Linked DNA regions of Homo sapiens. The protein of the gene in region 1 purifies or fractionates together with the protein of each later gene. This does not show direct contact. Each region holds a gene or a part of one and is shown in the gene's direction. Other genes may lie near its edges. The genes, in order: NFS1, CHD1L, SUGCT, SNX16, PPM1K, SUCLA2 and CIAO2A.

Region 1 (3,500 bases):
TTTTTGTATTTTTAGTAGAGACGGGGTTTCGCCATGTTGACTAGGCTGGTCTCAAACTTCTGACCTCAGGTGATCCACCTGCCTCAGTCTCCCAAAGTGCTGGGATTACAGGTGTGAACCACTGCTCCTGGCCCATTTTTTTTTCTTTTTTCTGTTTTTTGAGACAGAGTCTTGATCTCACCTAGGCTGGAGTGCAGTAGCCAGATCTCAGCTCACTGCAGCCTTGACCTCCTTGGCTCAGGTGATCCTCCTGAGTAGCTGGGACTACAGATGTGTACCACCACGCCAGGCTAATTTTTTTTTTTTTTTTTTTTTTTTTTTTTTTAGTATAGATGATGTTGCTCAGGCTGGTCTTGAACTCCTGAGCTCAAGCGATCCTCCTGCCTTAGTCTCCCAAAGTGGTGGGATTATAGGCATTAGCCACCACCACATCCAGCCCCCTTTTTTTTTTTTAATTAATTAATTTATTTATTTATTTTGAGATGGAGTCTCACCCTGTCGCCCAGGCTAGAGTGTAGGGGCATGATCTCGGCTCACTGCAACCTCTGCCTCCCAGGTTCAAGCGATTCTCCTGCCTCATCCTCCTGAGTAGCCGGGATTACAGGTGCGTGCCACCACACCTCGCTAATTTTTGTATTTTTATTTTTATTTATTTATTTATTTTTTGAGACAGAGTTTTGCTCTTGTTGCCCAGGCTGAAGTGCAATGGCGTGACCTCGGCTCACTGCAGCCTCCAACTCCTGGGTTCAAGCGATTCTCCTGCCTCAGCCTCCAGAGTATCTGGGATTACAGGCATGTACTACCACGCCTGGCTAATTTTTGTATTTTTTTTAGTAGAGACGGAGTTTTTCCATGTTGGTCAGGCTGGTCTTGAACTCCCGACCTTAGGTGACCCTCCCTTCTCGGCCTCCCAAAGTGTTGGAATTACAGGTGTGAGCCACCGCGCCTGGCCATTTTTGTATTTTTAGTAGAGATGGGGTTCCACCATGTTCGTCAGGCTGGTCTCAAACTCCTGACCTCGTGATCCACCTGCCTGAGCCTCCCAAAGTGGAGGGATTACAGGCATGAGCCACTGCACCTGGCGTTCTTTTTTTTTTTTTTTTTTTTTTTTTTTGAGATGCAGTCTCGCTCTGTTGCCCAGGCTGGAGTGCAATAGCACTCTTGGCTCACTGCAACCTCTGCCTCCTGATTTCAAGTGATTCCCCTCCCTCAGCCTCCTGAGTAGTTGGGATTACAGGTGCGTGCCACCGGGCCTGGCTTATTTTTTAATTTTTAGTAGAGATGGGGTTTCCCCATGTTGGCCAGGCTGGTCTCAAACTCCTGACCTTAGATGATCCACCTGCCTCGGCCTCCCAAAGTGCTCGGATTACAGTCGTGAGGCACTGCACCTGGCCGCTTTTTTTTTTTCTTCAATGAGATAAATGTTTTTTTTAGTTTCTTGTAATAGTTGAAATTCCAGGAATTTTTAAATGTACCTTTATTGTTTCTTGTGATATTAACAGTAATACCTACTCATGACTTGTTTACTGTTATATCACTGGCACCTAGAAAATTACTTGGGATACTGGAGGTGCTAAATATTGGTTAAATGAATGAATCATAAATTCCAATAATATAGAGTAGAACTCTAAACACATTTTCACTGCTAATTTGCTGTATATTTCTCCAGATTTTTAAATACCTACATTAATCTGTATACTATTATTATTTTAATAGATTTTATTTTTTATAGCAGTTTTAGGTTCACAGCAAAATTGAAAGGAAGGTATAGAAATTTCCTATATATGCCCTGCCCCCAGGTATGCACAGCCTTCTGCCATTATTAGCATCCTCCATCAAGTGGTACATTTGTTGCAATTGATGACCTGATATTGATACATCATTATCACCCAAAGTCCATAGCTTATATTAGGATTCACTGGTGTTGTACATTCTATGGGTTTGGACAAATGTGATTTATTCTAGTGAATTATTGAACTTGACCGGGCTTCGGGAAGCCCTGAATTTGTATTTGACTGGGCAGAAGTATGGGTAGCTTGAGACCCCTGGGACTTATGTCTGGTATCTGAACTAGGGGCAGTCTTGTACGATTGAGCCCTTAACCCATGGGGTTTTCACTAAGTCTGGAGAGTTAGCCTCAGAATTGAATTATAGGATACTCAGTTGGTATGAGAGAACTGGTGTTGGAGCATACTGTTCTTGCCCACTTTTCCTTTACAAATGAGATTGAAGTCATTGCTGTCTCTCTGAGTATGTTCTCCTTCCATCTGTCACCACCAATTTCTAGGGGGTGGCCCGATTCTACAGGTCACGGAAAAAGCACTTGATCACCACCCAGACAGAACACAAATGTGTCTTGGACTCCTGCCGTTCACTGGAAGCTGAGGGCTTTCAGGTCACCTACCTCCCAGTGCAGAAGAGTGGGATCATTGACCTAAAGGTAGGAGTGGCTATTGGCAGGAGGAGCAAAAATGGAGGAGCCTGGCTTCAGCTTGTAAATTTCTCTCTTGGGCCCTAGCTGGAGCTTGAAGGAATAGATCTAACAGTTAGGATGAAGTTTAGAGAAATAAGCCTGGCAGAGAACGAGATCATGTTCCCCTTGAGTGTGTACTGTCCTCCTTTTCTCTGGAGGACTTGTTTCTTTTTCTTTTTTTTGAGATGGAGTCTCACTCTTTTGCCCAGGCTAGAGTGCAGTGGCTTGATCTCAGCTCTCTGCAACCTCTGGAGGACTTGTTACTTCTTTTTTTTATTTTGAGACAGAGTTTGGCTCTTATAACTCAGGCTGGAATGCAGTGGCGCGATCTCGGCTCACTGCAACCTCCGCCTCCTGGGTTCTAATGATTCTCCTGCCTCACCCTCCCGAGTAGCTGGGATTACAGACGCATGCCACCAGGCCCAGTTAATTTTTTTTTTTTTTTTTTTTGAGGCAGAGTCTCATTCTGTCACCTAGGCAGGAGTGCAGTGGCACTCCACTGCAACCTCCACCTCCCGGGTTCAAGTGATTCTCCTGCCTCAGCCTCCTGAGTAGCTGGGACTACAGGCACGTGCCACCACACCTGGCTAATTTTTTTTTTTTTTTTTTTTAAAACAGAGTCTCGCTGTATTGCCAGGCTGGAGTGCAGTGGCGCGATCTTGGCTCACTGCAACCTCTGCCTCCCGGGTTCAAGCGACTCCCCTGCCTCGGCCTCCCAAGTAGCTGGGATTACAGGCATGCACCACCACGCCTTGCTAGTGTTTTTTTGTATTTTAGTAGAGACGGGGTTTCACCATGTTAGCCAGGATGGTCTCTATCTCCTGACCTCGTGATCCACCCACTTCGGCCTCCCAAAGTGCTGGGATTACAGGCGTGAGCCACCGTGCCCGGCCACACTTGGCTAATTTTTTATATTTTTAGTAGAGATGGGGTTTCACCATATTGGCCAGGCTGGTCTCGAACTCCTGACCTCGTGATCCACCTGCCTCGGCCTCCCAAAGTGCTGGGATTACAGGCATGAGCCGCC
Region 2 (3,500 bases), on another chromosome or scaffold:
ATTCTTCAGTGTCAGTGGGATGGGAAATGAAATACCTTCCTTCATATGGACTTAGCCCATTTAGAATATAGGCTGTTCTCCTGTCCACTTTTGTTATTGATTTGAATAGCATTAATCTATTTTTCCTTGGTATCTAACATTTCTCTCTTTGTGTTTTATGTTGTTAGAAAATCATATGTACTTATTTGAAGGTAAAGATTATTCTAAAGAGCCCAGTAAGGAAGACAGAAAATCATTTGAACAACTGGTAAACCTTCAGAAAACCCTTTTGGAGAAAGCTAGTCAAGAGGGCCGATCACTCCGAAATAAAGGCAGTGTAAGAACTGTTAATTTATTTAAAAGTTGTTCTTCCAAACTCTCATTCTAAAACAAACAAAAAAATGATGCTGGCATCGTTTTGTTCTCTTAGGATGATTTGTCAAGAAATAAGTATGTGTTTGCTGAAATGTTATTATAATTAACTATACCCTAGTATAAAAACTATGTAAAAAAGTCAGCATGAAAAACATAAAGGAGAGAATATATTGTACGATGTCATGTAGGTGAAAGCAGCCTTGTCCATCCAAGTCACCCCTAAAGGCATTCCTATATTATACCAAAATACCATATCCTGCTGTTGGTAATGATGACCCTATGACAAGAAGAGAGGATGGCAATCATAAATGATATATGTAGTGTTCACAGTGTTTGGCAGTTAACGTGGTCATTAAATGCTAGCTATCACTAAGATAATCATGATGTTGAAATACAATCTTAAAAAAGTTACATAATACATTGCAGAAAGAGTTCCATTAAAAATGGCTGAAGTGGCATCCTGCAGGGTATGCTTTTAGTCAAGGAAAAAAGTTACTTTTCTGAAGTAACTTATTCCTAATGAAATGAATCAAAATGACTGTTTCAACCATGCCAATGCTAGGGCTGAGTTTACAGCATGGTATCCTGGTCACTGTGCCTGTGAAGTGTGTAGTATGAACAGTGCCTCCAAGTGCTTTGCCTCCAGTTCCCACCATGCAGGGTGTGTGGAGATGCAGTGTTCTGTGGAATATTAAGCATGTTGCTTCCGTACAGTGTGTGTTAGGGATAATGAAATTCGGGGAGGAATCTTCTTGACCCTGGTGATGGATCTTGTTCTTCCTCTAGGTTCTCATCCCAGGCCTTGTGGAGGGATCTACCAAAAGGAAGCGGGTTCTGAGTCCAGAAGAGCTGGAGGACAGACAGAAGAAAAGACAAGAAGCAGCTGCCAAGAGAAGGAGACTCATAGAGGAGAAGAAGAGGCAAAAGGAAGAGGCTGAACATAAGAAAAAGTATGTCTGCGTTAACCAAGCTGGCGGCCACAGTTGAAGGAGTCACTATTGTATAGTGAGACCACAGTTGAATATCACTTTAAAAATACAGAAAATTCATTTTAAGTTGGTTCCTATTGGTAACAGAATACTTTCTGAAAACATTTCCTCTAGGTAAGTGAAAAGTCTCAGTGTATAAGGCAGGGAAGATGCATTCCATTAAAACCAGAATTGTTTTCTTTTTTCTTTTGAGATGGGTTCTTGCTCTGTTACCCAGGCTGGAGTACAGTGGTATGGGCACAGCTCATTCAGCCTCAACTTCCCATGCTCAGTGATCTACCCACTATAACCTCCCTAGTAGCTGGGAACACAGGTGTGTGCCACCATGCCTGGCTAATTTTTTTTATTATTTGTAGAGACAGAGTTTCACGGTGTTGCCTAGGCTGGTCTCAAGATCCTAGGCCCAAGCTGTCTTTCTGCCTTGACCTCCAAAGTGCTGGGATTACAGGCGTGAGCTACCATGCCCGGCCAAAACCAGAAGATTTTAAGATTTTATTGTAGCTATCTGACAAAGAATAATTTACTTCAACAATCTCTTTTAGTCTTAAAAACAGGAACATTCAGGGAGTGCTCATTATTGAATTGTAGTCAGGAAGCAGTTAGCCTAATCAGTAAGACTTGTTTACAAATAAGTAGAAAACTTCAATCAGGGTGAGTTTCTAATTGCATTTCTACTTGGCAGATATTGTTTGTGAACAGCAGTATAAAATGTGCTCCAAGGGAAATTGTGATTGTCTGGGTTAATTTCCTTTTGTCTCTGGCCTGCTAAAGGATGGCCTGGTGGGAATCCAACAATTACCAGTCCTTCTGCCTGCCCTCTGAGGAGAGCGAGCCAGAGGACCTTGAGAATGGGGAAGAGAGCTCTGCTGAGCTGGATTACCAAGACCCAGATGCTACTTCCCTCAAGTACGTTAGTGGTGATGTCACCCACCCTCAGGCTGGGGCCGAGGATGCTCTCATTGTGCACTGCGTAGGTACGAGAAGTGGTATGGGCTGGGGATGGGGGCCTCAGTCCTTATGGTGCCAAGAACTGGGGAGGATGGGGCACTGGGACTGGGGTGGTGGTCCCAGTGTAGTATTGTACAGTCAAAAAAGTGTGAATTTTAGAGTCAGGAGATATTCCAGAATCATTTCACTCTTGGCTTTCTCATTTACCTGGTTTAGTTACCCAACCTTTCAACTTCAACTTCCTTATCCATATGATGGGACAATATCTGTCTTATCCTCTGCACAAGGTTTTTAAGAGGGTGAAATGAAGCAACATTGATAAGACAAACAAATCCTTTGAGAAAAAGCAAAACTTCAAGCTTGTTCCCTTGCTTGACCTTTGTACTTTTTACTTCATCTGCCTAAAACCCTTTCTTCCCAAATAACCACATCAAGTGTTGTTCAAATGTCTGTTTCTCAGAGAGGTCTTCTGTGATTACCTCATATAAAACAGGCCCCATCCCCCCTGTTATTCTCTGTCCCTTCTCCCATATTTTCCTTTATCACACCTGTCCCACCTGACACATTACCTATGTATTTGTTTATTTGACTGTTGCTTTGCATTAAAAAATACACTTATGGCAGCAGGGGTTTTTTCTTGTTCGCTGCTGTGACTGTGGTGCCTAGAACGATGCCTTACGTGTAATACATGCTACCAAACGTTTGTAGTGTGAATGAATGACTATAAATGCTAAGATACTAAGCAGCTTTGTTAGTACCAGCTTGAATAAGTCACTTAACCTTTCCTGTGTACTGTTTCATAACCTTGCCTATGTGCTGTTGCATAACCTATTGCTTCTACTCACTCTGTAATGTTCCATCTACTCTCCGTCCTTCCGCAGTCATTTGCCAGGAATCACAGATGCACCACAGAGATTTTGCTCATTGAGAACCCTAATTTTTGAGATGCTTTCCTGTTATCATGGCCCCAGCTATATCTTCCAGAAAACATAAACATATTTGGGAAGTCCAACCTGTGATATTCCTAGGAGATAAGATATTTTGTTTCTTCCCTTTGAAAAATCATTCTTCCACAAGTCCCTTTTGTGTGCCTTTGTTTTTCTAAATTGTGCACTGGACTTCACCTCCTATAGATGAAAATTTTCTCTTTCTTCAAACAGATGACTCTGGCCACTGGGGCAGAGGTGGTTTATTTACAGCTCTGGAAAA
Region 3 (3,500 bases), on another chromosome or scaffold:
AGTGTGTAGAATACAACTGATGTTTGTATATTGGCTTTTATCTTGCAATCTTGCTTAACTCGATTACTAGTTCTAAGAGTTTTTTAGTGGATTCCTTAGGACTTTTGATATATAAGACTGGGTCATCTGCAAATTGAGATAGTTTTACTTCTTTCTTTGCAACCTAAATTCATTTTATTTCTTTTTGTACCCTAACTGCACTGGCTAAAACCTCCAGTGTAATGTTGAATTGAAGTGGTTAGAGTGGACATCCTTGTCTCATTCTTTTAAAAAATAATTAGTTAAATTTTTTTTCTTTTGTAAAATATATAGGCGGGGGTCTCACTATGTTGTGCAGTCTGGGCTCCAACTCCTGAGCTTAAGTGGCCCTCCCTTCAGTCTCCCAAAGTGTGGGATTATAGGAATGAGCCTTCGTGCCTGGCCTCTTGTCTTGTTCTTCATTTTAGGGGAAAACATTCAGTTCTTTACTTTTAAGTGTGATCTGGGTTATGATTTTTAATAGATGCCCTTTATTAGGTTGAGAAGTTTCATTTTTTTTTAGCTTTTTAAAAATCGATACATAATAGGTGTACATGTTTTCAGGGTTCATGTGATCATTCCATACATTAATATAATCAGATCAGGGCTGTTGATATACCCATCATCACCTTAAATATTTACCATTTCTCTGTTCTAGGAACATTCCAATTATTCCCTGCTAACTATTTTGAAATGTACAGCCTTTTGATGTTAGCTATAGTCACCGTACTGATCTACTGAACAACAATTCTTATTTCTTCCATCTAAGCGTATGTTTGTACCCACTAATCAACCTCTCTTCATCTCTCCTCCCCCTACCCTTCCCAGCCTCTGGTAACCAGCAGTCTGCTCTCTATCTTCATGAGATCTACTTTGTTAGCTTCCACATCTGAGTCAGAATATGTGATATTTGTCTTTCTGTGCTTGGCTTCTTTCATGTAACATAATGTCCTCCAGTGACATCCATATTGTTGCAAATGACAGGAATTTATTCTTTGCCCAGCTAATTTTTTATGGCTGAATAATATTCCTCTCTCTCTGTCTCGCTCTCTCTCTCTCTCTCTCTCTCTCTCTATATATATATATATATGGATGTTTCAAAAACAACTGCAATGTGACATATATATATATATATATATATATATATATATATATATATATATATATATATACAGGGTCTCAGTCTTTTGCCTAGATTGGAGTGCAGTGGCATGATCATAGCTCATTCCAGCCTGGATGGAACTCCTGCACTCAAGTGATCTTTGCACCTCAGACTCCCAAGTAGCTGGTACTAGGGGTGTGTGCCACCATGCCCGGCTAATTTTTGTATTTTTTGGTAGAGACAGGGTCTTACTCTGTCACCCAGGCTGTTCTTGAACTCGTGGCCTCAAGTGATCCTCCTGCTTGGCCTCCAAAGTGTTGGGATTTATAGGCATGAGCCACTGTGCGTGAACACATTTTCTTTATCCATTCATCCTTTGATGGACACTTGGGTTTATTCCATATTTCCGCTGTTGTCAATAGTGCTGCAGTAACCATGGGAGTGCACATATCTCTTCGTGATTGATTTTCTTCTTTCTTGGATATCTACCCAGCTGTGGAATTGCTGGATCATATGGTATTATTATTATTATTATTATTATTTTTTTTTTTTTGAGATGGAGTCTTGCTCTGTTACCCATGCTGGAGTGCAGTGGCACGATCTCAGCTCACTGCAGCCTCCGCCTCCCGGGTTCAAGCAGTTCTCCTGCCTCAGTCTCCTGAGTAGCCGGGATTACATATATGTGCCACCACACCTGGCTAATTTTTGTATTTTCAGTAGAGACGGGGTTTCACCATGTTGGCCAGGCTGGTCTTGAACTCCTGACTTCAGGTGATCTACTCGCCTTGACCTCCCAAAGTGCTGAGATTACAGGTGTGAGCCACCGTGCCCAGCCTTTAGTGTAACTTTTATTGAAAAAAAATTCCACGTATAAGTGGATCCATGCAGTTCAGAACTTTGTTGTTCAAGGGTCAATGTAACTTTGAACTTGTCTCTCACTTTTAAGACATTAAATAATTTTAAATTCTAATGACAAATTTAATTTTAAGTGTATTGATTTAAGGCATTACATTACAACTTTTGACAATAATAATAGTAAACTGCCAGACATTTCCAAGTTTCATGGCAATATCGTCCTTGAAATTGTATTGAAAAGCAGGGAAAAATAAGTTTAGCTACTATACCGTCTCAGTTACTTGCTTTAAACATTATTTTGCAAAACAGTACTTTTGCAAAACAATTAACATGGTTTATGATGGGCTACAAAAAAAGGACAAATTAACTTCTGAAAATGATTCAACAGAAGCTAGACTTAATAAGGAGGTAATTGAATCACTGCATCAGCCAGATGAAGTATGAAATGTGAGTTTTTTTAGGTATTCTGTGCGATTTAAGGCTTAGCAGAATTAAAGGTAGTGACAAGTAGAAACTATCTGATATATCAATGACTAATAACAATGTTGATAATTTTGATAGGTGATTTTTATTTTGTGTCAAGTACTGTTCTAACATCTTTACATATGGGCCAAGGATTGGATTGTCAAATCAGACTGACATGAAGTGGAGATGTTAATCAATATTAAGCTTTCCTTATAATTTCAAGAATACAAGCAATCAAAAGGCTCAGAAAAAGCAGAGACATGTCTGGGACATTGAGAGAGGCCCCCGGATCCTTTCTTACTGCAATAGACAAAACTCTGTGGCCCAAAGCAGTAGATGAGGTCCTTAATGAAATATATGAGTTATTAGCAGGGAGTGTTACAGGCTGTGAAACATCTCCGTTTTATACCCAGATAGTTGCAAAGCTCATGCCCTGTGCCCAGTGCTCCATGTCCCATAAATCTTGAGATTCTCAGTTTGTTTATCATAGTAATCCTAATTCAGGGGCAGTCTGCTAACAGCTTTTTATGGGTAAATAGTCTTTTTTTAAATTATTAAGCAAACACTGTTAGTATTTTTGCCAGCTATTGGTGTGCTTACAAGGAGGTTTGACCAGATTTTTTACCTTCTTTTTTTTTTTTTTTTTTTTTTTTTGTGAGAGAGCCTCTCACCCAATAGGAGAAAAACACTGCTTTAACTCTTTCTCCCCAACAAATTAACTCATTTAAATTCAATTAATTTTTTTAGCATAAACAAGATAAAATATATCAAGAAGGAATTTAAAACATTGAAACATCAGATCGGTTTCTAAAAAATCTTTTATTTTTAGTTTGGTTAGTAGGCATTGGGGAGAGAAATGCACTGAGAAGTATATAGTAAATATAAATATTTTCCTATTACCAACAGATATTCACAATAGCAATTTATTTTATTAACTTTCTTGTGTGTATGTGTCTGCACAGTTAATAGACAATTCTTTTTTCTATTTCACATTAGAAGATTTGAGAAATCATATGATTCTTTTAATGTTTAATTATTTCTTCTTTCTCAACCCAACCTT
Region 4 (3,500 bases), on another chromosome or scaffold:
TCCCCTCCCCTTGAACCTGGATGGTCTTGCGACTACTCAACCCAATAGAGGTCAGTGGAAATAATGCTGTGTGAGTTTTAAGCCTAGATTACAAGAAGTGCACAGTTTCATTCTGGCTTGCTTTCTTGGAATGCTCCCTTTTGAAGCCAGCCTCCATGCTGCAAGAAAAGTCCAAGACACCTGGAGAGGCCAGTATTAGGCTTATGGCTGACAACCTTGGCAAAGTTCTCAGCCAGCAGCCAGCATCATCCACTATAGATGTAAGTGAGTGAACTTCAGACAGTTCCAGCACCCAGCCTTCAAGTCTTTCAGCTGAGGCCTGAATTCATTGCATAATAGAGATATATCATCCTTACTGTACCTCATATGAATTATTGACCTAAAAAATCTGTGAGCTTAATATTAAGAAATGGTTATCTTGTATCACTGAGATTTTAGGTAATTTGTTACACAGTTGTGGTAACTTGAACAGAATGTAAAAGGGAAGACTTCACTTAGTTTACAGGGTTGGGAAAGTCTTCCCTAAGAAAGTAAAATTTAAGCCAAATGTATAAAATAGGTCATAACCAGAATATAAAAGTTAAAACTAAACTTTTAGGAAAGACACATAGAAGAAAATCTTTACAGCCTTGGAGTAAGCAGACTTTTTTTATGATCTAAAAAAAAGCATAAACCATAAAAGAAACAATGGATGAATTAAATAACATTAAAATTAAAAAAAATCTGCTCTGTTAAGACAAATTGAAAAGTCAGGCCAAGTTGGGAGAAAATATTTGTAATGCATGTATCTGACAAAGGACTTGTATCTGAAATATATAAAGAACTCTTATAACTTAGGCAACCTAATTTTTTTAAAGGGAAGGTGCTAAAAAATTTAATACATAATTCACCATTGAAGATACTCAAATGCAAATAAGCAGATGAGAAGATATTCAACTTCATTTGTCAGCAAAGAAATGCAAATTATAGCCAGAATGAAATGGTTCTACACCCCCACTAAAATGGTTAACATTCAAAAGATGGACAATGCCAAGTTCTGGCAAGGATGTGGAAAGACTGGAACTCTTCTGTATACACAGCTGGTAGAAAACAAGAAATAAAACAAGGCATAAAAAGCTTAACTGAATTTAATTCTTTTATTTTAAACTTATTTCATGAATAATTTCATGTAGTCAACAGGATAGATTTTGTAGAATTGATAGTGCTTGAGTTAAACATTGTATTTGCTCTTTTCTTCTTTTTCAGTTAAAAGAGATGTTTCCAGGTTTTCGACTAGCACTTCCTCCAAAACGCTGGTTTAAAGATAATTACAATGCTGACTTTTTAGAAGACAGACAATTAGGATTACAAGCGTTTCTTCAAAATTTAGTAGCTCACAAGGACATTGCTAACTGGTATGTAACGAATTGAAATAAGAGATTATAAAAGCATTCCAATAACTGGCGTAAATTAAAGAATAAATCTATGATCATAGTTATTTAAGCACAAAAATACAGGGTTGGAGTATAATTACTTGTCTTCTTTAACAAAGTACTACAAGAGATTTTCTTGCTTTCTTTCAATAAGGACTTTATTTGACATTTCATTTTTATCAAAGCTTATTTTAAATAGTCAGTAAAGTGAAAAATCCAGTGTACCATGTACTAAACCACCCAAAGGTAAACTTTTAGTATTTTGTATTTTAGCAATGACTTAAACAAAACCACTTACATATTAGTAAAATTTTGGTTAATATGATACTATGTAATTGTAAGGGTAATATTCTTTATATTTCTCCAAAGTAATGCAAAAATATTAAAATTGTGAAATTGGCTTAATTTACATAGAAGGTAGAGTGAAAATACCAAACAGCATTAAAAAAGGAAAAGAACAGATCTATGTGGGTTTTTTGCTTCAGAATATATTTACAAGAAAATTGCTTAGTGGTTCAATATCAGCTGAGTATCTAATTTTGGAACTTATGTTATCAGATAAATTAAAACTACTTTGAAAAAAAAAGTAGAAAGCATTTACAGTGTAGCAATAGCTTATAGATAACTTGGGCCTGTAACTGTCTTGGGCAGTTTTTCACATGAGGATGGAAAACAAATTAAGAAAACCATTCTATCTAATTTTTTCTACCTCTTTTTCTCAACCTTTGCATGTATCAATTTTTTTCCTGCATGACACACGTGCGATATATATATATAGATATACACACACATATGTGTATATATATATATATATATATATATATATGTATATGTATATATATATATACACATCTTGCTTTTCAGTGTGTGCCACATAAGCCTGATGGCTTCTCAAGGTCTCTGCCCATCCTCCCTTATTTTTCTCTTAATGAAGGAACTACAAGCCAAACCCATTCTTTCTACTCCAGATTGATATATGCAGTTGTCTCCTCGACATCTTCAGATATCTCAAAATTACGTCAAACCTAAAACATATTTGAAAGTTTAGTATGCAGACTTTTTTCCTCCAATTTGTAGCAGCATCATCTACCCAGAACCTGTGAGTCATCTTTAACACATCCTTCACTACCCTTAACATTTCCCTTGCAAGTACCACTCAAGTCTGTCTACTTCTCTCCATCCCTGCCATCACTACCCTAGTCCAAGCACGTATCTCTCACCTTAATTACTGTAGATGCTTTCTCACTGGTCTTCCTCCTCCCCTCTTACTACTATAGCCCAGTAGAGCCACAGTGATCTTTGTGATGCAGTTTGACTTATTCTTTCTGGTCCCTGCCTGCCTGCCTTCTTTTCAATCTTAGGTTTTGTTATTCCTGCCCACCTCCCCTTCTCTGTACATTTGCCATATTGGTCTTCTTTTAATTCTCCAAAATCAGCTTGCTCCTTGTTTCTCAGAGCCTTCAAATATGCTATTTCCTGAAAAGGCAGCCTTTCACACTACTACCCCATCCAACCCTGACCTCGTACCTTACCCATCCTTCAGTTTTCAACACAAACTGCACTTCGTTAGGTAACTGGCCTCCTGACTGACCACTCACCACCACTACCACCACCACCAAACACTAGGTCAGTTCTCTATCACAGAGTCTGTACCATCCCTTCTCAACTGGCTCTGATGCTTTAAGACACCGTTCATCACCCACAGGTAATGAATTAACTTATTTCCTATATTCTAAGATGATACTAGCTATGTGCCAGTCTCAATAGAATTGAGACAATCACTTAAATCATTATCAGTAGGGGTCAGTTCTCTCTTGGAATCTCAGTTGAGAAAGGCTAATTGGTACTTCACTTTCATAGCATTTCAGCTTATAATTATTTCTGTCAATATTTGTCTTTCTCCCACCAGATTGATTGTAAGATGTTTAACAACAGGTCATGTGGCTATTTTATTCACCATCCAATCTAATGTTTAGCACAGCACTAACATAGTTGGTTCTCAATAAGTACTTCTTGAGTGAATGATATAACTATTGATATTCACTGATATACTGTGTATTAGAAAAAAAAAATTGAAGCCAATGTGAC
Region 5 (3,500 bases), on another chromosome or scaffold:
CGTAAACATAGTTACTTGAGTGGTTGCATGCTGCTGCTTCACGAATGAGCAGTAGTTTAAGTGTGCCATTTATTACTTATGGTTATCACAATTTCAGAAATGCATGTTTTAACAACTCCCCTGGGGAAAGCATTAACCAAAATCTATAGCACTTAATTTGTGATCATTTTAAGTGAAGTGGCATAATGTACATGAGATAACCTATGAGAAGCATTTACTCCCATCAGTGTAGGACAGATAAGTGCTTCAGTAAATGGTAATTACTCTTTCAAGTGGTGTGAATAGCTTTGAATACCTGACTTGTTGAAAATAGCTTTGGATGATTGGCATTAGTGTGGAAAAATGCATTTAATGCAGGCATTTTGGAGCTCTTCCGTTTATTTACTTCAACTAGTATTAATGCATTTTTGAGGATCACATTACTGCTAAAATTGAAAGAGGGAGAACATGTGATGGAGTTACGACCATGTGACTATTTTTGACTTCCCAGTGACCATTTCTTGACTTCCTGTGTATACCGCATTCCACGAAAGAACTCACAATGGGAAGGAACTCTCGACCTCTCAGGGTTGTGGTAGTGAGGATCAATTCTTCAAGGACAAGGACTTGGACTTTCATTGTTGTGCCCTTAAAAGCTTATCACAGTGCCTGATACTTTGTGGATTCTCAATAGGTATTCCTTAGCCAGTAGGTCTTCAGCATTTGACAGGAAAATCCTGAGGCCCGTTGTGTGGAATGACTGCTAGCTAGAGTAACAGTGAGGAGAAAAACCTATTGTAAAATGATTGTTTAAGGCTCTTTTTTTCCTCCCCACAAAGGGATTTGCTTCCTAAGGAGAAGAACTTGGAAACTCTGTTGACCTTGGCTTTTCTAGAAATAGATAAAGCCTTTTCGAGTCATGCCCGCCTGTCTGCTGATGGTATGTAAAACTATCACATTCCTTGGATCCTAGGGAGTACATGGGGTGGGGGAGGAGTAAAAAGGAAACACTTTAAGTCCTTTGGGGGAGGGGATTTTAATGGACAATTGTTTGTAAGGATTTATGTAGAAATGAGTTTATATGAAGAATCACATTAAATGCTGTTGGGAACTCCAATTAATGTTAATACCTCACTTTTAAATGAAATATATTGGAGAATTTTTCAGAAAGAGAAGCCCCGAAACAGTTCTGATGTTGTACTTTAGTTTTTAAAAGATTTTAAAAATGTTTAATCTGTTTGCTTATTTTATGGACAAAATGTCCATACTATGAGTTTTGTTTTGGGTTTTTGGTTTTTTTTTTAGATGGATCTGGTGACCAAGTGCTGAAATACACTACAGGGTAATCACATCTAGCGAGGACAGTCATTGTCCAACAAGAAAAAAATTGCAAATAGGTCCTAAATAGAAAAAGACAATGGTTAATATGCACTAATTTGTATAACTAGAAGGAAAATATTTTTCTGTCACTTCTTAAAAAGCTCAATCTTGCAGCTTTTCTCTGGTAACTAGTGATATTTTCAGCATAAGGTCATGCTAGCTGAATTTAAAATTTTGTGTACTGTATGTCCTTAAATTTTGAAAGTGAAATGTTTCTGGTTTTGACTAAATTTATCAAAACCATTTCACGAAAATTCAGCAAACGTTTTCTAGTTAGCTAGTCCCAAATCTTTTGCTGTTAAAGTTAACCCTGAAAATTTCTGTACCAGCCAAATGAATGTGTGCATGTAACCTTGTAAATGATTTGAAAATGAATCATGCAATAATCTTGATCTGTATTTGGTTCATCCTTTTCTTAAAAAAAAGAAAGAAACCAAGTGCACCACAGAAATGTCATTTGCACAGTCTTCAGTTGGAATACATAAGGATAGAGATTGTTTGCATTTCACAGCGAAGGAACTGAAGATTAGAGTGGTAAAGGTCAGTTCAGAGTTAGGGCTGGGATTTTCCTGACCACCAGCATTATCTCTCTTCTCTCATGAGGAGAGGAGAAGGTAACTCTGCGATGGCTCTATTTACCATCTTGAGATTTTTTCCTGAGCTTTTTTTGAGAACCTTACTATCACACTCCTCAGGAAAGCATTACAGTCCACTCTCTTCAGGGATATGTTTTCCAGTTTGTAGATCATTTAGGCCCATTTTCTTTTCTTTCATTCCTTTGGAATTTTTCTTTTTCCTTTCAACTGGACCCTTACCTTTAAGAAGACAGAAGCTGAAAGAGGTAAACTTTATGCATAAGACTTAGCTCTTGTTCCAAATAGTTAAAACACATGAAGGAAAAGAGGAAATGAAATATTTTCTTATGGTTTTATTTTTATTACTTCCTGAATTTTGGTATGCTCTTATTTCATAGTAACTGAGTTGGCTGTGCATCTGGCTATGTCTCACACCACAATGTTTGTTGACTGTAGTGTCGGTGGTGTGCCCCAGCTGTTCTGTAAATAGCTGCAGCTTACTGGGCAAGGTTTTTGGATGAGAATGTCCAAATTTATCCCAGGCATGTGACCACCAACCAAAAACATTGGCCTTCTCAATGCCATCAGCCTCTTTTAAAAGTATCTAGTCAATGTAGATGCTTAAACCAATCGGTGATTGACTTGATGTAAAATATGACAGGACTCCTTTTATTATTGAATGAAGTATAACTCAACAGAATTTTGAACTTAAAGAATTTAATTAACTTGCCTATCTTAAAAGAAACTTTCTAAAGATACCTTTGTCACAAAAACATTAAACAGTTGTATAAAGAAATTAATCACAAAAATGTAATTCATATGCTAACTTCAGCAGCACATACACTAAAATTGGAATGATACAGAGATCAGCATGGTCCTTGTGCAAGGATGGCACACAAATGCATGAAGAGTTCCATATTTTTTATTCTTACTAAAATCAATTCATTTGTAATAAAGAAATTAAAATGCATTATTTAATTTAATTCCTCTATCATATGCTTTGAAGTAATGATCCCAGAACATTCTTAAGATATTTTAAAATGTATTTTTCATATAATGGTAATTTGTTTGAAAGTATAATGGAGCAAGACAAGATGATGCTCTTAGTGTGTACTAAAAGAAAAGGTCTATTATAATATTGTTATTAAATCTTATTTTGTTATTAAATTTGTTATTTGTTATTAAAATCTTATTTTGTATATATTCTTATCGGTCTGTGTTTTTTAAAAATTAGTGTTTTGAGAACATTTAAAAATTTTATTCTTGATAAGTTGCCAGAGCCTTCAAAGATGGCAAAAATTGTCTTGATATTTAGGGCCTATTTTATCAAATACATTAAAGCCACTAAAGATAGAATGCCATATGTTGTGTAACTGTTCAGTTTATGGATTTTTTAAAATGTCATTTTAAATTTCAAAGTTATTATTTAAGTTTAAAACTTTAGTTTTTAGCAAGAACTGAAGCAGTATCAGTATTATAAGAGTGGATAATATTCTTTTCGGCCTATGTATATAGATAGGACCAGTGCCAGTGAAACAAAATTTTGTAGTAAGTGCAGTTTACCCT
Region 6 (3,500 bases), on another chromosome or scaffold:
AGATAAAAAGTGTAGAGGGTATTATAAGGTCTTCTAGGCCATTGTAAGCACTTTGGCATTTAACTGAGTGAGACTGGCATTCAGTGCAAGGTTTTAAGTAGAGGAATGGTGTGCCTGCTTTGGCTGCTGCCTTGAGAATATTCTGTGGGGGACAAAGGTCATATAGTTAAGAGATAGTGGTGGTTGGGATCAGAGTCTAAACTGCAGGTGATGAGGAATGGTGAAGATTCTGGATAAATTTGAAGATAGAACCAGTATGATTTCCTGGCTGAATGGAAGTGGGGTTTGAGAAAGACAAGTTTTTTAAACACTCTCTTGGCTGACTACGCATAGGGTCATCATCTGGTTTAAATAGCATGTATTTCTGGTGAAGGCTTACATCAGTAATTTTCTAAATGTTCTTTTAAAATAATTGTTAATGTGTAAACTTTAGGTTGTTTTTGTTTGGTTTCAAACTCCATTTCCTACCTCATTGATTTGGTTGGTTCATCTGATTAGGTGGGAGCTTCCTCTCATTCTGCTTGATAAATGCATCGTGGAGTGACATCCTAGTTGTAGAGGACTCTACTTCAGTCTGTTCAAATCCATGTTTATGGAGTAGTTGTTATATCCCAGAGACTTCCTTGTGCTTGGGATATAATGAATACAGTGAGACCTTTAGCCCTGATCTCAAAGGTTATTTTGCCATAATGTATAGTTGGTGCCACCCTGCCAGTGTGGGCAAAATGCTATGAGAGGCAAAATGAGGAGGCTCTGAATTCTGCCTGTCTGGTACACAGAGAATGCCTTTCTAAGAGGTATTACTCTTTTTTTTTAACTGATACATAATATTTTTGTGGTACATGTTATATTTTGTTACATGCATAGAGTGTGTAATGATCAATTCAGGGCATTTAGGATACCCATCACCCAGAGCATTTACTCTTTTGAGACAGCCTTGCTCTGTCCTCCAGGCTGGAGTGCAATGGCACAATCTTGGCCCATTGCAACCTCCGCCTCCCGGATTCAAGTGATTCTTGTGCCTCAACCTCCCAAGTAGCTGGGATTACAGACATGTACCACCATGCCTGGCTAATTTTTGTATTTTTAATAGAGATGAGATTTCACCATATTGGCTAGTCTGGTCTCGAACTCCTGGCCTCATGTGACCCGCCTGCTTCAGCCTCTCAAAGGGCTGGGATTACAGGAGTGAGCCACCGCACCGGGCCCATTTACTCTTGATCATGAATGATGAGTACTATCTAGGCTAAACAGCCAGTTTGCTGGTTTTCCACAGCAAATTAGAAAGGAGAGGAAAAGGGATAAATAGTAATCAGTCTACCTGTTAAAGAAGAAAAATTCAGTCCATTTATTTAAAAATATGCATAAGCTTTGCAAGCATAGAATTCTGAAATCTTTTGATACAGATACCTTAATAACTCCTGATAGTACTACTCATGCAGTACTGCTCAATAATGTATTTTAATAGAACTTTCTCTTAGTGGGACAGTATAAATCAGTATCAATACTGGTAATGGTAATATCCCCCAAATCATGACATATTCCTGCTATAGCGATATAACTCAGATGTTCTCAGGACAGCAAGTTTACATGTGAATAGAGAGGGAGGGACGTGTTAGGAAGACATGAAATTCAATTTTGTACTTTTGATACTTTCCAGAGTTCTAGATGACACTTTCCAAAGTGTCAAGAAATGGTTAAATTATTTTCAGTTTACTTTTAAGAAATGGTTTAATGTGGCCAGGTGCGGTGGCTCATGCCTGTAATCCCAGCACTGGCTCACGCCTGTAATCCCAGCACTTTGGGAGGCCGAGGTGGGCAGATCATGAGGTCAGGAGATCGAGACCATCCTGGCTAACATGGTGAAACCCTGTCTCTACTAAAAATACAAAAAAATTAGCCAGGCATGGTGGCGGGCGCCTGTAGTCCCAGCTACTCGGGAGGCTGAGGCAGGAGAATGGCGTGAACCTGGGAGGCGGAGCTTACAGTGAGCCGAGATCGCGCCACTGCACTCCAGCCTGGGCGACAGAGCGAGACTCTGTTTCAAAAAAAAAAAAAAAGAAATGGTTTAATGTAAGTGACGAATTTTGAAAATTGTGGGCCTTTTAGACAGTGATTATTTTAGTGTTCTAATCTAGAAAATCTACATAAAGAGAATGCCTTATTTTTGGACATTGTGAATAAATTAGACTTGATTTAATAACACCTGTCAATATGTATGTTAAATAACAAAATACTATGTCTGGCATGCTGCTCCATGCTTCATATTTAATAGAAGTGTTTTTCTTCTAGGTTCAAAAGATGTCGTGATAAAGGCACAGGTTTTAGCTGGTGGTAGAGGAAAAGGAACATTTGAAAGTGGCCTCAAAGGAGGAGTGAAGATAGTTTTCTCGTAAGTCACATTTTTTAAGGAAAAATCATCCTTGTTAAAGACTGATTAAAGATTACTTATTGAATTGATGAAAATACTGAAATTTAAATATTAGATGAGATAAAATTTTGGCTATTATGTGGATTTGCTTTTTCTCAACTGGAGGAAAGAAAAATTTGAGTTCTTTTTCTTATTTTAGTCCAGAAGAAGCAAAAGCTGTTTCTTCACAAATGATTGGGAAAAAATTGTTTACCAAGCAAACGGGAGAAAAGGGCAGAATATGCAATCAAGTATTGGTCTGTGAGCGAAAATATCCCAGGAGAGAATACTACTTTGCAATAACAATGGAAAGGTCATTTCAAGTGAGTAATTGTAGACATGATACATACGGGATAAATTTATGACATTCAATTTCAAAAGTCCATTATTGTTTCTATTTATGTGGGAAAGATTTTAAAAGTACAAATTATAATCTGTTTGTATGTCATGAGCATGATATTTATGTCATTTAAAAAACAGCTTCTTTAATGCCGTAAAATTTGATATATAATATCATGATCTTAAAATTATAGGAAAAATTCTGCTGTAATAAATTTCATGGGATTCTCAAATTGTTAATTCACTAAAAGCAGCTTAAATCATCTCTGGATCATCTCCAGATTGAGAAAATTATATCTAGCATAGTAAAATATTCTAATGAAAGAGAAAGTTGCTGAACCCACTAGAAGAATGTGTATCCATTGCCTCATCTTCTGTTTTCTCAACTTCTTGGGTTTGTTTTTTTTTTTTTAATAGTTTCGGGTTTGTTTCACTATATGATTCAATATTTGGTAAATTGAGGGATGACATTAAGTAGCAAACAATATGGTTTTAAGGAGTATTACATTAGCACAGCTCTCCTCTCTTTATGGAACCTAAAATGTTGAACATAAAGCTTCTGGTGAAGAGAAAATCCCTTTATAGACCTGGTGTTTGGAAGAGAGCATTGATAATCATTTTATACTAGAATTATCTGTTTTTCGAGGGTATTAGGTTTTACAAGCTGAATCTGTGTGTTAACTAGCTTGTTTTTTGAAGCAACTGGGTATATATTTGAAAGCCCCAGTACGGATTTCATGTAGAACATTAA
Region 7 (3,500 bases), on another chromosome or scaffold:
CGGGCAGATCACGAGGTCAGGAGATGGAGACCATCCTGGGTAACATGGTGAAACCCTGTCTCTACTAAAACTATAAAAAATTAGCCAGGCATGGTGACGGGTGCCTGTAGTCCCAGCTACTCAGGAGGCTGAGGCAGGAGAATGGCGTGAACCCGGGAAGCGGAGTTTGCAGTGAGCCGAGATTGCACCACTGCACTCCAGCCTGGGCATCAGAGCGAGACTCTTATCTCCCAAAAAAAAAAAAAAAAAAAAAAGCAAAATTAGCAAGGCATGGTGGCACACACCTGTAATCCCAGCTACTTGAGAGGCTGAGGCAGGAGAATTACTTGAACCTGGGAGGCAGAGGTTGCAGTGAGCTGAGATCATGCCATTGCACACCAACCTGGGCAACAAGAGCAAAAACTTCATCTCAAAAAAAAAAAATTCCCATTGGCATGGCGGCTCACACCTGTAATCCCAGCACTTTGGGAGGCCAAGGCAGTGGATCACTTGAGGTCAGAAGTTCAAGACCAGCCTGGCCAACATGGTGAAACCCCATCTCTACTAAAAATACAAAAATTAGCTGGGCATGGTGGCACGCACCTGTAATCCCGGCTACTCGGGAGGCTGAGGCAGGAGAATCGCTTGAACATGGGAGGTGGAGGTTGCAGTGAGCTGAGATTGCGCCACTGCACTCCAGCCTAAGCAACAGAGTAAGACTCTGTCTCAAAAAAAAAAAAAAAAATCCCATTGCTAGAAAAAGCATTACTGAATGCTGAATGCATGGTTATTTTTGGTCATTGGACAATTTGTGAACGAACAGATACTGAAAGTACTGCTGTGGGTGTTGTGGAGGGGGTGTCTTAAAATATTTTGACATATAAGAAAGAGTTCTTAAATGGAGAGTTCAAGAACCTATAGCAAATTTATTTATTTATTTATTTTTTGAGCTGGAGTTTAACTCTTGTCACCCAGGCTGGAGCGCAATGGTGCAATCTTGGCTTACTGCAACCTCCGCCTGCCAGGTTCAAGCGATTCTCTTGCCTCAGCCTCCCAAGTAGCTGCAATTACAGGCGCCCGCCACCATGCCTGGCTAATTTTTTTTGTATTTTTAGTAGAGATGGGGTTTCACTATGTTGGCCAGGCTGGTCTCGAACTTCCAATATCAGGTGATCTGCCCACCTCGGCCTCCCAAAGTGCTGGGATTACAGGTGTGAGCCACCACTCCCAGCCAGCAAATTCATTTTTAAAATTAACATTTATTTAAATTATATGAGTAACATGTTTATTGGCAGTAATTTTGATACCCCACAAAAACATAAAGAAAAAAACCAGCTATTATGAAAGAATGTCACTGGGTGCAGTGGCTCACTCTTGTAATCCCAGCACTTTGGGAGGCCGAGGCGGGCAGATCATGAGGTCAGGAGTTTGAGACCAGCCTGGCCAACGTAGTGAAACCCTGTCTCTACCAAAAATGCAAAAAATTAGCTGGGCGTGGTGGCGGGCGCCTGTAATCCCAGCTACGTGGGAGGCTGAGGCAGGAGAATCGCTTGAACCCGGGAGGCGGAGGTTGCAGTGAGCGAAGGTCACGCCACTGCACTCCAGCCCAGGCTACAGTGCGAGACTCCGTCTCAAAAAAAAAAAAGAATATATGCTCTGGGCTAAAATTCCAGGTCTATTGGCTGTACCGTATTGTGGGCTTCGGCAAGTTACTTAACCTTTCCAAGACCCAGTTTCCTTATCTGTAAAACAGGAATAATAAGGATATCTATAGAGTCGTAAGAGTTAAGTAATAGCATGAAATACATGAATTATTTTTCTCATTAAATATTTCTTTTTTTAAATTTTTTTTGTTGTTGAGACAGGGTCTCACTCTGTCACCCAGGCTGGAATGCAATGACACGATCTCGGCTCACTGCAGGCAGCCTCCACCTCCCGGGCTCAAGTGATCCTCCCACCTCAGTCTCCTGAAAAGTTAGAACTTCAGGCAGGTGCCACTATGCCTGGCTAGTTTTGCCATGTTGCCCAGGCTGGTCTCAAATTCCTGGGCTCATGCCTCAGCCTCCCCAAGTGCTGGGATTACAGGCATGAGCCACCATACCTGGCCATCATTAAATATTCTTTAATTATATAGTTATAGGTTACATGCTAATCATATTGGTACATCAGAAGTTTTGTAACCATTTGGACTACTTCTAGCCTTTTGCAATTATAAATAATACTGTGATGAGCAACTTTATTTTATTTTATTTTATTTTATTTTATTTTATTTTATTTTTTGAGACAGAGTCTCACTTTATTGGCCAGGCTGGAGTGTAGTGGCCACTGGAGCTTCCACCTCCCAGGTTCAAGTGATTCTCCGCTTCAGCCTCCCGAGTAGCTAGGATTACAGGCATCCTCCACCAAGCCCAGCTAATTTTTGTATTTTTAGTAGAGACGGGGTTTCACCATGTTGGCCAGGCTGGTCTCGAACTTGTGACCTCAAGTGATCTGCCCTCTTTGGCCTACCAAAGTGCTGGGATTACAGGTGTGAGCCACCGCGCCTGACCGAACAACTTTATATATAAATATTTTTATTTATTTATTTTTTGAGACGGAGTTTCACTCTTGTTGCCCAGGCTGGAGTGCAATGGCATGATCTTGGTTCACCACAACCTCCACCTCCCAGGTTCAAGCGATTCTCCTGCCTCAGCCTCCCAAGCAGCTGGGATTACAGACATGCACCACCACACCTGGCTAATTTTGTATTTTTAATAGAGATGTGGTTTCTCTATGTTGGTCAGGCTGGTCTCTAACTCCCAACCTCAGGTGATCCGCCTGCCTTGGCCTCCCAAAGTGCTGGAATTAGAGGGGTGAGCCTCCGTGCCTGGCCTTATATAAATATTTTTATATATCTCATTATTGCATCAGGATAAATTCCTATACGTGGAATAATTGGGTTAGATTATGTAAGTATTTTGAAGCCTCATGGTATATATTGGTAAATCCCTATCTGGAAGTTTATACTGTTTGACGCAGGAGTTAAGGAACTAATTTTATAGAAGAAAATATTCGCCAGACGTGGTGGCCCACACCTGTAATTGTAACACTTTGGGAGGCCGAGGCGAGAGGATCACTGGAGCCTAGGAGTTTGAAACCAGCAATCTCTTAAAAAAGAAAAAAAACATGAAAAAGCTTGAATAAGTTCAAATTGCATCATGATTGCAGTTATAGAAAAATGTGTACGTGGACAAATATCAGGAGAGTGCATGAAATAAAAACTGTTCTGTAAGGGTGCTAACATTAGATTATAGTTGATATTTCAGATCTGTACACTTCCTGTAGAAAGTTTTGTCTTAGCCCTTTCGTTATGCATTTCAGCTAAGACCATTGGCTTTTTATTTTTTATTTTTATTTTATTTTATTTTATTTTTTTTTGAGACAGAGTCTTGCTCTGTTGCCCAGGTTGGAAAGCAGTGGTGCTGTCTTGGCTTACTGCAACCTCTGCCTCCTGGGTTCAAGCGATTCTCGTGCCTCGGCCT

What was found.
Region 2: the proteins of NFS1 (region 1) and CHD1L purify together in Homo sapiens (co-immunoprecipitation; one large-scale study listed by IntAct). This does not show direct contact.
Region 3: the proteins of NFS1 (region 1) and SUGCT purify together in Homo sapiens (co-immunoprecipitation; one large-scale study listed by IntAct). This does not show direct contact.
Region 4: the proteins of NFS1 (region 1) and SNX16 fractionate together in Homo sapiens (co-fractionation; one large-scale study listed by BioGRID). This does not show direct contact.
Region 5: the proteins of NFS1 (region 1) and PPM1K purify together in Homo sapiens (co-immunoprecipitation; one large-scale study listed by IntAct). This does not show direct contact.
Region 6: the proteins of NFS1 (region 1) and SUCLA2 fractionate together in Homo sapiens (co-fractionation; one large-scale study listed by BioGRID). This does not show direct contact.
Region 7: the proteins of NFS1 (region 1) and CIAO2A purify together in Homo sapiens (co-immunoprecipitation; one large-scale study listed by IntAct). This does not show direct contact.

The regions. Positions count from the first base shown.
Region 1 is NC_000020.11:35,689,353-35,692,852, reverse strand, and holds part of NFS1 (cysteine desulfurase isoform a precursor), read left to right. Parts: intron 1-482; exon of another isoform or gene 483-604; intron 605-2,287; coding exon 2,288-2,440; intron 2,441-3,500.
Region 2 is NC_000001.11:147,284,184-147,287,683, forward strand, and holds part of CHD1L (chromodomain-helicase-DNA-binding protein 1-like), read left to right. Parts: intron 1-167; coding exon 168-316; intron 317-1,140; coding exon 1,141-1,304; intron 1,305-2,114; coding exon 2,115-2,317; intron 2,318-3,451; coding exon 3,452-3,500. UniProt on the Homo sapiens protein: ATP-dependent chromatin remodeler that mediates chromatin-remodeling following DNA damage.
Region 3 is NC_000007.14:40,271,005-40,274,504, forward strand, and holds part of SUGCT (succinyl-CoA:glutarate CoA-transferase), read left to right. Parts: intron 1-3,500. UniProt on the Homo sapiens protein: Coenzyme A (CoA) transferase that reversibly catalyzes the transfer of a CoA moiety from a dicarboxyl-CoA to a dicarboxylate in a metabolite recycling process.
Region 4 is NC_000008.11:81,821,686-81,825,185, reverse strand, and holds part of SNX16 (sorting nexin-16), read left to right. Parts: intron 1-1,245; coding exon 1,246-1,394; intron 1,395-3,500. UniProt on the Homo sapiens protein: May be involved in several stages of intracellular trafficking. Plays a role in protein transport from early to late endosomes. Plays a role in protein transport to the lysosome. Promotes degradation of EGFR after EGF signaling.
Region 5 is NC_000004.12:88,274,562-88,278,061, reverse strand, and holds part of PPM1K (protein phosphatase Mn(2+)-dependent 1K), read left to right. Parts: intron 1-818; coding exon 819-919; intron 920-1,284; coding exon of another isoform or gene 1,285-1,325; exon of another isoform or gene 1,326-3,135; intron 3,136-3,500. UniProt on the Homo sapiens protein: Serine/threonine-protein phosphatase component of macronutrients metabolism.
Region 6 is NC_000013.11:47,987,774-47,991,273, reverse strand, and holds part of SUCLA2 (succinate--CoA ligase [ADP-forming] subunit beta, mitochondrial precursor), read left to right. Parts: intron 1-2,292; coding exon 2,293-2,392; intron 2,393-2,570; coding exon 2,571-2,733; intron 2,734-3,500. UniProt on the Homo sapiens protein: ATP-specific succinyl-CoA synthetase functions in the citric acid cycle (TCA), coupling the hydrolysis of succinyl-CoA to the synthesis of ATP and thus represents the only step of substrate-level phosphorylation in the TCA.
Region 7 is NC_000015.10:64,083,839-64,087,338, reverse strand, and holds part of CIAO2A (cytosolic iron-sulfur assembly component 2A), read left to right. Parts: intron 1-3,500. UniProt on the Homo sapiens protein: Component of the cytosolic iron-sulfur protein assembly (CIA) complex, a multiprotein complex that mediates the incorporation of iron-sulfur cluster into extramitochondrial Fe/S proteins.